Linked DNA regions of Homo sapiens. The protein of the gene in region 1 purifies or fractionates together with the protein of each later gene. This does not show direct contact. Each region holds a gene or a part of one and is shown in the gene's direction. Other genes may lie near its edges.

Evidence for each region.
Region 2: the proteins of SLC60A1 (region 1) and XPO5 purify together in Homo sapiens (affinity purification with mass spectrometry; 2 studies listed by BioGRID and IntAct, with this or other methods). This does not show direct contact.

What each region holds. Positions count from the first base shown.
Region 1 is NC_000001.11:205,589,340-205,593,123, forward strand, and holds part of SLC60A1 (major facilitator superfamily domain-containing protein 4A), read left to right. Parts: intron 1-2,530; exon of another isoform or gene 2,531-2,800; coding exon 2,801-2,948; intron 2,949-3,784.
Region 2 is NC_000006.12:43,527,539-43,531,038, reverse strand, and holds part of XPO5 (exportin-5), read left to right. Parts: intron 1-214; coding exon 215-351; intron 352-1,662; exon of another isoform or gene 1,663-1,683; coding exon of another isoform or gene 1,684-1,790; intron 1,791-2,113; coding exon 2,114-2,211; intron 2,212-2,833; coding exon 2,834-2,880; intron 2,881-3,307; coding exon 3,308-3,405; intron 3,406-3,500. UniProt on the Homo sapiens protein: Mediates the nuclear export of proteins bearing a double-stranded RNA binding domain (dsRBD) and double-stranded RNAs (cargos). XPO5 in the nucleus binds cooperatively to the RNA and to the GTPase Ran in its active GTP-bound form.

The sequences.
Region 1 (3,784 bases):
GCAGGGTGGGGGATCGGGAGCAGAAAAAGATGAGGATGGGGAAGTAAACAGGGGCTACATCCTCAGGGTTTTGTAAGGTGGGCTTTGAATTTTATTCTAAGTGGGCAGGAAGCCAATAGGTTTTAAGCAGGTCTGCGTTGCATTTTCTTTTTTCTTTTTATTTTTTTGCATCTCACAGATACATTTATTCATGCTATGAAGTAAACGACACTTATACAGGTGCCCCGTGATGTTTCACATTTCCATCTAACATAGCTTGCATTGCATTTTTAAAATTTATTATTGTTTTTTTTAGAGAGACAGGGTCTCACTATGTTGCCCAGGCTGGTCTTGAACTCCTGGGCCCAAGCGATCCTTCCTGCCTCAGCCTACCAAAGTGGTAGAACTAGACAGGAGCCACCATCTCCAGCCACTTGCACTGCATTTTAAAAGTGCACTCCAGTGTGGAAGAACAGACTGTAGCTGGCAAGAGTCAAACACAGACTGTCTGTTATTGTAGTCCAGGCGCAAGAGGGAGGTGGCTGGGATGGGGTGGTCTGGATGGATCTGGAGCAGTACAAGGATCGAACATGTTTTTTGAGATGGTGTGGACAGGACTTGTTGCTGACCCAGGTGTGGGAGGTAAGGAAAGGAGGAATCAAGGACCTTAGACACAGGACTTGAGCAACTGCATGACTGGGATGCCCTCACTTGATGTGTGCAGGAGTAGGATTGGCAGAGGAAATTAAGAGTCTAGTTTGGGCCACATGGTTAGTCATCCAGGGACTGACTATATCCAAGGGGCAGCTTTAGGTGCAAGTCCGGAGTCCTGGACACAGCTCATGGCTAGAGGGATAGATACAAGCATGCCTGCTGTAGAGGCAGGTGAAACGTGGAGCAGGGCACTGCGGACATGGAAGAGCCAGAAGAGAATCCTGGGCCACCCCAACATTGAGAGAGTGAACAGAGGGGAAAGCAAGAACAAATGGATCTCAGGGACCATGTTCTGTGCCAAAGAAAGACATGACCTTTGGAACCATAGTTATGCTATGACTTTCATATTTTTACTGCATGAAAGAAGTCTTTTGTCTTTCCATTTCCATTCTGAAGGGAATGTGTTTCTCTCCTTCGGCCACTGTTTTGTGGCTGATCCCTCCCCAGGGAAGGAAGTCTGTCTGGGTAAGGCCTCTGAGCCTCGAGACCACCTTCCACCTAACAGATCCTGTGGCAGAGACGGAAGGGCTGCTAGAGGAGCGTAAAGGCCTCAAGGATTAGGAGCACCGGCTTTGATTTTCCAATTGGAGCAACTCTCCCAGGATCGGCTCCCAACCCTGAAAGTCTTTCCTTTCTGCATGCCCAGAAGTGGAGGGGTTGGGAGCTGGATGAGATTTCTTGCCTAGCTCTATAGTCTGTACTTACTTTTTAAAGAAACAGATGTCTTCATCCAGGAGATTTTTACCTCAAAGCCATAGGCTGCTATAGAAGATCCTTATCTCCTGAGACGTCTAAGAAAAGCCCACAGAGAAACACTAGGACTCATATTTGTCTGAAGCACCACAGTTTACAGAGCCCCTTCATCTGTATTATTTCACCACCACTCTTTAGTGTGGCTTTTGTAACTATTCCTATTTTGCAGATTAGGAAGTTAAGAATCAGAGCAATCAGCTACTTCTGGGTTCCACAGCTGGTAAAAAACACATCGGGACTTCCACCTGGGTCTTCTGACCCCAAATCTTGTGCTGCCTGGGTTTATTCCCAGATACATCTTGCACAGAAGTGACTCAATGCAGACATAAAAACGTGTTTAAAGAACTTAGAAATATGGTTATATTAACAAAAACATGCCTGTATGACAGAGACCTTTACTGAACTAGAAAGATTTGGCTGGGCGTGGGGGCTCATGCCTGTAATCCCAACAGTTTGGGAAGCTGAGGCAGATGGATTGCTTGAGCCCAGAAGTTCAAGACCAGCCTGGGCAACATGGCGAACCCTTTCTCGACTAAAAATACAGAAAATTAGCAGGCGTGGTGGCACATGCCTGAGGTCCCAGCTACTCAGGAGGCTGAGGTGGGAGGAACGCTTGAGCCCTGTAGGTCGAGGCTGCAGTGAGCTGAGATTGCACCACTGCACTCCAATTTGGGCAACAGAGTGAGACCCTGTCTCTCAAAAAAAAAAAAAAAAAAAGGAAAGAAAAGAAAGATTTCTGGGTCTCCAACCATAGGTTAGCATCTGCCCATGGGAATCTGAGCCAAATCTGAGGGTGCCAAGCTGACTGCCACAGCCACTGACCCTCTCCCTGGGTGGCTGGCTAGGATTCCCAGAGGATGGGACCCTGCTGCCACCACCCCTCTTCCCCTGCTATCTGATGGCTTCCTGTCTGTGCACTCTTGGCTTTCAGGAGAAGAGAAGCAGCTTCTCACAAAGAAACAGAGACTCTCCTACCCCCAGGGCTGGCAGGGCAGAGAGAGCTGATGAAATTGGCTTGGGTGGAGTTCCCGCGGTTACAGATAAGACCTTGGGGACAGGTAGTCCTCAGTCCCCAAATGCTTACGCAGCGTGTACCGTAGCTGTTAGGGGAGATGTCTAGGTGGGAAGATGTCTAGGCGGGGGTCTCCTTTCCACGCTTCCTTCCAGATGTCAGAACGGTCCCCGGAACACTGCGGTTCCCGCCTGGTCCACGGGGTGGCGCGCGGGTCACACAGCTGGGCTCCTTGGGCTAGAGAGGAAACGCCAAGCCAGGAGACGCCGACTCCTGGCGGTTCCTCACCACCGATGCTCAGCTTTTCGCAATTCCTAACCGCCTCCACCTCTGCCGCGACAGGTTGGCGTGGTGGTGACGTTCCTGGTGCTGCTTATTTTCTCCTACAACGTCGTCTTCCTGTTCGTGGGGACGGCAAGCCTGGGCCTGTTTCTCAGCAGCACCTTCCCCAGCATGCTGGCCTACACGGAGGACTCGCTGCAGTACAAAGGTGAGGGCCGGGCCCGAGCCAGGAGGCGCGCTCTATCTAGCTGGGCGCCGCCGCCTCGCTCTGCCCTGTCTCTCTGTGCTCTTTTTTTTTTTTTTTAATTTTATTATTATTATACTTCACGTTTTAGGGTACATGTGCACAACGTGCAGGTTTGTTACATATGTATACATGTGCCATGTTGGTGTGCTGCACCCATTAACTCGTCATTTAGCATTAGGTATATCTCCTAATGCTATCCCTCCCCCCTCTCCCCACCCCACAACTGTCCCAGGTGTGTGATGTTCCCCTGTGCTCTTCTAGGCCAGCACCATCTCCCAGCGAGAACGCTGCCCTAGCTCCCTGGAGAAATGAACACCCCCCTCCTGACTTTGGCGGGAGCAGGCCCACAGCCGGGGTGGTTCTGACCCGCTGGGCTCCCTCCATTCAGAATGATCCCCGTAATGATGGGATTTTAGGCCGCAGAGAAGCAGTTAAGCTTCTTTTTTCCATCCGCTTTGTCCCCATCGTAACGTCTGCTGACCTGCAGCTGACATTTTGTGCGATATGGATGTGCTGGAAATGCCAAGTTCAAAGAAAAGCAAAGATGCACAGGAGAAGTTATGGCATAGGAAAGGCATTTTGTAAGCTAATTTTCAGTAACAGTACGTGCCTGCCTTGTGGCTGTGGTGGATGTTAGAAACGTGGAGGATTAGAACACAGATCTGGTTTCAGGAGTCACACAGCCTCTTTGATGTCAGAAATCTCTAATTCTCTCGACTAATCTCCCTCCCCTTTCCCTAGCCTCCCGAGTGCCTATAGCAAAGATCTCTTTTTTAATGAGTTAATTAAAAATAATT
Region 2 (3,500 bases), on another chromosome or scaffold:
TCCACATTAAATAGTAATGAAAGCTACTGCTGATCTCGGCCACCAACATCTGTCTTTAAAAAGATGCTGTATCTATAAGTTCTCTTAAGTAAATACAACTGCTCTTCTGGCTGAAAAACCTTATTGTAGGCTAGAAATGAAATTCATGGGACAGGGCTGGCAGTAACAGATGTTGGATTTGTCATTTTCAATGCTCTTTTTTTCCCCTTTACAGTTTTCATATCCTAGGGAAGGCAGGCCCTTCCATGCAGCAAGACTTCTATACTGTGGAGGACCTTGCTACCCAGCTTCTCAGCTCAGCCTTTGTCAACTTGAACAATATTCCTGACTACCGACTCAGACCCATGCTTCATATCCTTTCAAAAGTCTCTACATAACCCAAAAGGTCAGAAAATTAGAGAGAGAAACAAAACAGGTCACAGCAACCAGAGGGAAGAGGCAGAACTGGAAGGAAGAGATGAGATTATGTATCTAAGTGTATCATGTCATTAAAAACACTGGCAGATTGCAGGGAAAACATGAAGGCAGTCCAGATGGCCATAAACTTTTCCTTAGGGGTAAATTTTTACCTTCCCCCTTCTCGGAATTATTACAGATAAAACTTTTTTTTTTTTTTGAGACAGTCTTGCTCACTCTGTTGCACAGGCTGGAGTGCAGTGGTATGATCTCGGCTCACAGCTTCTGCCTCTCAGGTTCAAGCTATTCTTGTGCCTCAGCCTCCTAACTAGCTGTGATTACAGGTGTGCACCATCACGCCCAGCTGATTTTTATTCCTATTTTTTGAGACAGAGTTTTGCTCTATTGCCCAGGCTGGAGTGCAGTGGCATGATCTTGTCTTACTGCAACTTCCACCTCCTGGGTTCAAGTGATTCATGTGCCTCAGCCTCCCAAGTAGCTGGGATTACAGGCGCATGCTACTACGCCCAGCTAATTTTTTTGTATTTTTAGTAGAGACAGGTTTTCGCCATGTTGGCCAGGCTGGTCTCAAACTCCTGACCTCAAGTAATCCGCCTGCCTCAGCCTCCCAAAGTGCTGGGGTTACAGGTGTGAGCCACCATGCCCAGCTGTGAAAGATAAAACTTTTATCCCTTTTCTGTATTTTTAGAAGCACTTTTTTTTTTTTTTTTTTGAGACAGGGTCTCAGTGTTACCCAGGCAGGAATGCAGTGGTGCCATCAAAGCTCAGTGCAGGCTCAAGTGATCCTCCCACCTCAGCTTCCTGAAGAGCCTGGACTGGACCACAGATGCGCACCACCACACCCAGCTAGTTTTTATTATTATTTGTAGAGATGGGTCTGTATTATGTTCCCCAGGGTGGTCTCAAACTCCTGGCTCAAGTAATTCTCCTGCCTCAGCCTCCAAAGTGCTAGAATTACAGGCCTGAGCCACCACACCCAGCCAGAAGCAGCAGTTTTAACACTTCATTCTCATTCAGACCCTTATTAATAGTTGAATCTCTTTCTTTCTTTTCTTTTTTTTTTTTTTTGAGACGGAGTCTTGCTCTGTTGCCCAGGCTGGAGTGCAGTGGCGTGATCTCGGCTCACTGCAAGCTTCGCCTCCCAGGTTCACACCATTCTCTTGCCTTAGCTTCTCGAGTAGCTGGGACTACAGGCGCTCGCCCCCATGCCCGACTAATTTTTTTTTTTTTTTTTTTTTTTTTTAGTAGAGACGGGGTTTCACCATGTTAGCCAGGATGGTCTCGCTCTCTTGACCCCGTGATCCACTCGCCTTGGCCTCCCAAAGTGCTGGGATTACAGGTGTGAGCCACCGCAGCCAGCAAATCTTTCTTACCTGAAATTATAAGGAGAATGGTGAAGGAGAGTTTGTTACAAGGATGTCCTCCTTCCTATTTTTTTATTCCTACTTTTTGGGCCAGTGACCATAATGTGCAGCCTGACGGAAATGCAGCTAAACTAAGAGTATAATGGAATTCAATATCAGTGCCATTTAGGATTTTAGGAAAAGAACTTTAAGATTTTTTCACTGTTAACACAGGATATTTTTGACATCTGGCAAATCCTTTAGGGATTGATTCTGCCCAGGGGTGCAACCCACCACCTGGCAGGTGAGAGATGTGTGCCTATGCACTAAAATTTCTTAACTTGTTGCAGCACGTGTCTTTGTAAAGCCTCTGGTGCTCTTCTGTCCCCCAGAGCACTATGAAGCCCTGGTATCCCCCATCCTCGGACCTCTTTTCACCTACCTCCATATGGTAAGAGATAAGTCAGGAACAGGAAGCAAAGAGTACTATTAAGGCCTCTGGCCATTTCTGAGCTTTGCAAGTCAGGAGCTCCTAGAAGTGTTGTCTACTAGCCCTGCCAGACTGGCTGGGCAGAGCTTCTACCCCAGCTGACTATCCTTGCTGTAGGATCGAGCAGCCCCCAAAGAACTAAACTGATTTAATTGCCACAAGACAGCTTCAGTTGCAGATTCTGCTCCTAACCTCCTGTTAACTGAGGAGAGGTAAAAAGAGGAATGCTTGCTCACAGACCCTTGCCAGGAATGCTGGGTCTGTTATCCTTACTCTAGAATTAAGCAGGGGGACCAGCTGGGTGGAGAACAGGTATGTCTAGAGACCCAGGAATTCTAAAAATGTTGTTAATTCTTTCCAAGCAAAGAGGTGTTTGAGATACCACCTTCATCAGGGATGTGGGATAGGTTACAGAAACCATAGATGTTTTTTTTAACCTTGTGGTGTGGAGTCTACAGAAGTTGTCATTGATGCCTAGAATCATCCTTGGCTAATTTTAATCATGAAGTGGACTTGACTTTAGATATTATGTGTTCCAATCCTTTCCCCAATTCTAGCATTTATTTCCTTTGTGTTTTCCCAGAGGCTTTCTCAGAAATGGCAAGTTATCAACCAAAGGAGCCTGCTGTGGTAAGGGATACCTACCCACTCTTCTTGGTGGATGAACTGGCAGCCAGGTTTGGGGTGGGAAAAGGAAGCGGGCAGGGATTCTGCTGTCCCAGGGTAGAAGAGCAGTAGGTTGTAGTCATTCTCAGCCTAGGTGATACATGGCTTGTCTGGACAGGCTGTTACCAGCAGGCAGACTCTGAGATCCAGCCTTCATAGGGGCTACTGTTACCTTACTCACTTATTTTAATTCTGTAATGTCTATCCAACTGGACAGAGTCACTAGTAATAATGTCCTTCAGTGGATCACTGCTGTCCATTCCCAACTTTTGCATAAAACGAAGACCCAAAGGAGAAGAAAGTGGTCAGAGAGAGTCTGATTAGGGTCGCTGCTTTCCTTGTCCTTCCTTTTCTGCACTCCTGTGGAACTTGGCCCCCTGGTTTTCTGCAGTGGAGAAGATGAGGCTGCAGATGAAAACCCAGAGTCTCAAGAGATGCTGGAGGAGCAACTGGTGAGGATGTTAACCCGAGAAGTCATGGACCTAATCAGTAAGTGGCATGTCGAAACTGGGGCTATAGAGGATTTTCCTGGAAGAAGAGCTGGTCGCTCAGCCAACTCCATGAAGGCCTGACTAATGCAAAGG